Regions from separate parts of the Homo sapiens genome. Here region 2 is reported to be linked to region 1. Evidence: microRNA targets listed by miRTarBase, many of them from high-throughput screens and not tested one by one. Region 1 holds a microRNA gene; the other region holds the end of a gene's coding sequence.

Region 1 (3,536 bases):
AGATTTACTACCTATATTCAAGTGTAAACAAAACACTAGATCTCAGATTCAGTAAGGAACTTTTCCATTTCCTTTCTCTCCATTTAAGCTCAAGGCAGATATTATGATTTTGAAAGTAATATTTATTTGGATAATATCAGAAAACCAACCTAAACAAATTTTTTCTTCTCATGCTATTATTCTGAAACTTCCATGGTTATTTTTGTATACATTTTTCTTTCCCTCTTCCTTACAATCCTTATAACTTTATCCTCACTGGAGTTATTCTGTGTTGGAGCAGATAAACAAAATGAATTCTTACACTGTATTAGCCGAAGGGCAGCAGACATGAGAAGAAAAGAGAAGTGGTGTTCACAGTCGAAGGACGTGCTTTTCAGTAGTGATTCAGACAATTCAGAAAAGCTTACTCATCTCTTTCCTATCTGCTAGTGTGACCACTGTATTCTTCTTTTTCAGATTGCCTTCAGGGTTATCTGCTGTTTGAGTGTCATTACAAAAGTCAGGTCTGCTCAGGATCATGTCAAATAATTTATCCCCATGTCCTCATTTTAACTCCCCATTGCTTCTTCTCAGCCCTGTGCTCTGGGTCCTCACCACACATCAGGTCATAGAAGCTGGGTGCCCCCTCACATTGCTTTCTTTCTTATTATGCATACCAGTGTTATGCAAACCCTACAGGAGTATCTTAGGTTATGCAGTTTTCCCATGACATTTAAAGGAACCCTAAGCCTCTTGTGGGAAGTAAGATAAGGCATCCTTAGAAAGTGTTATCTCTACAGTTTACTACATTGGGATTACTATTCACTCAACTAAATATGATTTCAAAAAGTTAATTGTATTTTCTAGATATCTTAAAAAGAAACCATACATTTTTAAAAACATGCTGCTTTAACTTTGTCTAGAATCTTACTCCCTGCCCCCAAATTTAACAGCTTAGCTTTTCCATTGCTTAAGTAAGTGCCTTGTATTTGAATAATACAGCTTAATCAGATTTTTGAAAGCTTTTATTACATCGTTTTAAAGTGGCATAAATAATGTAAAGTAAGCCTAATTTCACATTAGACACCTTCTATGGCGGCTTATGAAGCTCAAGTTTTTTTAGTTTTTTTTTTTTTTTTTTTTTTTAATTAAGGCGATTCCAGCAGTCATTTCTGACTCTGTGGCATCTTTCTGCAAATCCTGTCCACTTTACTGCTATACCGAGGTTCATTTGTGTCATTCAAATCTTTGCTCTTTAAATATCCACTTATAAATTTATTATGGCAATACATTCATATCTTTACATTTAATCTGAAACTTCGGTAACAAGCAGGAGATGGAATAAATGAGTAGCAGACACACTTGACAAAGTCAAAATGCTCTCCTGTCAGTGCCCATATGAACTATTACAATGACAGAAGAGCATTTTAATTTTGTCCAGTTCTTCTTTCTCCTTTTCACTCTGCATTTCTCCTTCTCCAGCTGGCTACGGAAACTTTGATAAAAGATCCAGACTTTAAATGCCCAATATCCTCAAAAAAATGTCAGAGAATGTTTTAAAATCATAGATTTTGAATGACACAGATGAACTTCACTTGCAGCACTGCTGCAGTGGGGAATTTATCATTTTGTTAATTAAGAAGGGTTTTCCAATAGTCACTCCAGAAATTGCCTCTGGAATATCATTAATTAACAATCTTACTTCCACCATGGGAGGGAGGAATGAGGCCGAGCAGCAAAACTCACAAAAGGACTAACTTAAAATACACACACACACACACACACACACGCATTTGAAAAGCACCAGACAAATCTGGAAAAGAGGAGGGGAATGAATTACTTAACACAAATATTATAGGATCAACAGAGCTAACAAAAAATCCAATTCATAGCATTTAAAGCTATCTTAGTTCACAGGCCTTATGCTAGTCCCGAAATAAAGTCAACAATTTAGAAACTCTATCTGAACTAAATAATTTACCATGTTGTTTGGAATTTAAGGGCTTTCCCCCCAACAATGACTGCTTCCTTTCTAGGGAAGAAGAAAACAAGTCTTTTTTCCCCCCAGTTTTCTTATTTGTTGAGTATCCAGGTAACAAACTACTTAAAATCAACCAAACAAAACTTGATAATTGGCCCTATCCCCATGTGAGCCACAGAAGGATGTAACCATGGCAACCTGTCATTTAGAACAGACCATCTCACGTACCTTTCAGAATTTAAGCATATGAGAACTTATCCATTCCCAAGTAGAATTATCATGCCGGGAACATTTTGTTCTTTATTGCAGAGGAAGTATAAAGCCAGACTCTTAAATTGTTCTCAACAAGGTGTTCAGGAGAAAAGGAGGTTCAGTAGCCACGAAAAGATGGAGATACATACACTAATCTAAAGTTCTTTCTGTTGAGGAGTAAACAAGAATAGACTTGAGGAAAGGGCAATCATTAAAGCCGTGGTGACTGTAGCAGAATAGCTTGGTGAAACCTAAGTTTTCAAAGTAAGAATCTTTTCCAATGAGGAAAACAGCAGCTGACTGACACAAACACAGACCCTCCTTGATTTTAAAGGAGTTTGATCTTCATAGTCACTTTTAGCACACCAGAAAGTATTATTTCCCTCACATTTTTGCTGGTTGTTTTTTTTTTTTTTTTTTTTTTTTTTTTTTGGCAATCAAGACCTACAATAAGACTTTACCTCTCTGGATTTCATAATACAGGAAACTTTTTTTTTTGTTACTTTTTTTTTGTTGTTGTTAGTATTTAGTGACAGGGCTCAAACTGGCTGGGAATGTTCTGATAGACTCTTAATCTTCAGGTGTCTCAAACTGAACATAAAAGAGTTTGAAAAGTATTTCTTATTGAGATGACCAAGTCGCTTTTCTTTAACCATCAAAATGGTAATCATGATTAAAATCTGTGATCAATTTTAATTGTAGCAATGAAATGACAACCAACTTCTCCATTTCCACTAGAAAAATTTTAGAGAGTAAGAACATAAAAAGAGAACCTAGTGTCGGAACATCTCAAATTGTAAGGCTAGCCAGAATGAAGTAAGTTTTGTTAGAGCCAGGTGTATTCTCTTTGTAGTCTCTACATCAAGGGGCTATAATGGGTGTCTGAAGAAAAATCACGGGTTGATTTTATCCTTTATATTTAACATGCTGTCAAATTTATATTTCCACATTACTGCAATATGGGGATCACTGGGAACTGTGACTAACACTTTTGTCTATGTACAATAGTGTGGCATCTATAATAATTCTCTAACTCCTATTCACATCAACAAATGTGTATTGAGAACATACTCTGTGAAAGATACGCTGAAAAGAGTGGTGGGGCATGCCAAGAAGCAGTAGGTGATTTACCTAGAAGCTAATGTAAATTTAGGGCTCTTCCCCTAAATGACTCCCTTGCAAGAACCTAGCAGGGATGCTAGCAGTTTTTAAATTCATAGTTATTATTTTCCATTAAAAACACTTCCACAATTGCATGATCTTTAGGCTCCACAAAATCTAAATGGGCTGCCCTATCATCTCCCACTAAAGTTTAGTGGAAGCA
Region 2 (3,000 bases), not on the chromosome of region 1:
AATTATTTTTGGGCTGGGCATGGTGGCTCACACCTGTAATCCTAGTGCTTTCAAGGGCGTATGCTAGAGGATTACTTGAGGCCAGGAGTTGAACATCAGTCAGGGTAAAATAGCAAAACCCTATCTCTATAAAAAATTCTTAAATTACCTGGGCTAATCTCAGGTACTCGGGAGGCTGAGGCAGGAGGATCACTTGAGCCCAGGAGTTTGAGGCCGCAGTGAGGTATGACCATGCCAGTGTATTCCAGCCTGAGTTTCAGAGTGACATCATTTCCCTAAAAAAATAAAAATTAAAGAATTATGATTTCTTTCTCCAGGCTTATAACGTAGGACACTATCCTACAGAATTCTGGACTTCAGGACACATGAATGCACTGTAGGACTTGAGAACAGATTTCCCTCACCAGTACTGAGCAGAATGCAATATCCATTATAAACAAGAGAATAATTTTGTGCTGTTCTCAGAAGCACCAAAGTGTGTCACTAAAACTGTCCCCTACTCAGGTTGATTTATGAAAACACATATTATTGCACTATTTCATCTAAAAATAAAGATCACAAAGCCCTGAAGTCTTTATTTGGAGGCCTTAGGCAGCCATCCAAACTAGGCCACAAATGCAGAGCTATATTCTGCCTTCATACTGTTCCCTAAGAGTCACACAGTTTAGTAACCCCAACAAACTTTCATGGTACCAGAATCCTTCATGGTACCAGAACCATGTTGTATCTAAGCCACACAATGCAGTGAGTATACAATTCACACAATACAGTCAATACAATTCCCAAGATTGAAGGAAGCTTAAATAAGGACTTCATCATAGCAGAAACCAGAACAATGAGAGGCAGCTTGTACTTGGGTTGGTGAGTTAAGAGGCTGGAAAATTCCATTTTAAGAATCATGACAATCATGAGATTCCTAGGAAAGACAGCCCATCTTGTCAAGTAATCAGAAAAATTCTCTAGGCCAAGCTGGTCCAACCCGCAGCTTGTGGGCCGCATGTATCTCAGGACAGCTTTGAATGCAGCCCAACACAAATTTGTAAACTTTCTTAAAACATTATGAGGGTTTTTGTGTGATTTTTTAAAAAAGTTCATCAGCTATCATTAGTGTTAATGTATTTCATATGCGGCACAAGACAATTCTTCTTCCAATGTGGACCAGGAAAGCCAAAAGATTGGACACTTCTGCTCTAGGCCAGAACTGAGTCAGGTCCATGGCCTAACTCTTCATAGAGAAATGAGAAAGGAACGAGTGCAGAGGCTACTCAAAAATACCACTGCTGAATGGGAGACAACTTGAACTTTTTTTCTGGAATATGATGGAGTGCATGAGTGATGCACTGTAGGTACCTGCCAAGTGGTAGAGATGAAATGGCTTTTGCCAGAGACCTAAGAATGAAATAAATCTGGCAAGGACATACGCAGGATAAGAAATGCAATACAGCTCCCATATACCTGGAATTTATGCAGCTACTGGACATATGACATTCAATATAGGTTGATGGTGTCCTCATAAGGGCTCTCTCCCACAGTTACACTGGACAAGAAGTAATATTCCCACACATCTATGTTATTTTTCTCCTGTCAACATTCTGGTATCCAGTGAAAGAAGAGTGAAGCCCTCGCAAATGCTCTGCACTCAAAAGGCACTTCCACAGCAGGAGCTTGTCTGTGCATAATATGTTAGACATTTAGATAAAGAATGTGCCATATTTGTCACACCATAAAGCCTTGATCCAGTGTGAACTCTGATTTTGAAGGAGCATAGAGGTTTGACTAATCAATTTTCCAAATTTACTTCACTGAGAAGGGCTTTCTCTAGTGTGAACTTGCAGGGCAGAGCTTCTAGTGAATGTCTTTCCATATTTGCTACACTGTTGAGGCCTTTCTCTAGCATGAACTCTCCTGTGTTTAATGAAACCAGAGTTTTCCCACAAAGGATTTTCTACTCGCTGCTCTCATAAGGCTTTGTCCAGTGTGAACTCTTACGAACATGGAGCGCAGAGCTGTACGGAAATGATTTCTCACATTTATTATGTGAGAAATTATTATGTGGCCTTTCTCCATTGTAAATTATCTGATGAATAGTAATGCAGCTCTTCTGGCTAAATAATTTTACAAATTCCTTACAGTCATATGGCCTTTCTCAACTGTGAACTCAGTAGTGTTCAGTGAGGTGGGACTTCTTGTTAGGTAATTTCCCAAATTCCCCATAACTATAGGGTCTTTCTCCAGTGTGACCCTTCTGGTATTTGGTGAGGCAAAACTTCTATGTACAGGATTTCATACATTCTCTACACTCAGAAAGCCTTTCCCCAGTGTGATCTTGCTATTGTTGAATGAGGCCAACCTTTTGGCTAGATGATTTTGCACATTCTCCATACTCATAAGTGCTTTCCAGTGTGATCTCACGAATGTTGAATGAGGGTGCTCTTTTTACCAACAGATCTGCCAAATTTTCAACATTCATGATGTCTTTCTCCCGTGTGAACTCGTTGATGTTTAATGAGGTTTCCCTTTTGACGAAAACACTTTCCACATTCTCCACACTCATGTGGCCTTTCTCCAGAGTGAATCTGCTGATGTCGAATGAGACTGCCCTTTTGATGAAAACATTTCCCACATTCTCCACACTCATGTGGCCTTTCTCCAGAGTGGATCTGCTGATGTTGAATGAGACTGCCCTTTTGATGAAAACATTTCCCACATTCTCTACACTCATATGGCCTTTCTCCAGTGTGAACTCTCTGGTGTTCAGTGAGGTGTGACTTGTACCTAAATGATTTCCTACATTCTTTACACTCATAGGGTCTTTCTCCAGTGTGAACTCTCTGGTGTTCCTTTAGGTGGGAGTTGCTCCTAAATAACTTCCCACATGCCGTACACTCAAAAGGTCTTTCTCCAGTGTGAACTCGCTGATGCTGAATGAGGTTGCACTTGTGATTAAACGATTTCCCACATTCTCCACACTGATAAGGTCTTTCTCCAGTGTGAACTCGC

Evidence for each region. The annotated mature microRNA hsa-miR-3660 reads ACUGACAGGAGAGCAUUUUGA and lies in region 1 at 1,351-1,371, opposite strand. An mRNA with a match to its seed (bases 2 to 7 or 8) in the 3' UTR can be bound and repressed. Matches are read on the target gene's strand: a 7mer-m8 pairs with bases 2 to 8, a 7mer-A1 pairs with bases 2 to 7 and ends in A, and an 8mer does both.
Region 2: the mRNA of ZNF776 is a reported target of hsa-miR-3660. The part of its 3' UTR that is shown has no 7-base or 8-base seed match.

The regions. Positions count from the first base shown.
Region 1 is chr5:90,015,291-90,018,826 of GRCh38, forward strand. MIR3660 (microRNA 3660) reads right to left here and starts at 1,430; the gene lies at 1,331-1,430.
Region 2 is chr19:57,754,147-57,757,146 of GRCh38, reverse strand. It overlaps ZNF776 (zinc finger protein 776), which reads right to left. Exons shown (of 3, transcript NM_173632.4): 3 at 1-3,000. The coding sequence ends at 2,460. Among named protein-coding and RNA genes, the nearest start is that of ZNF776, 8.8 kb to the right of the region's middle.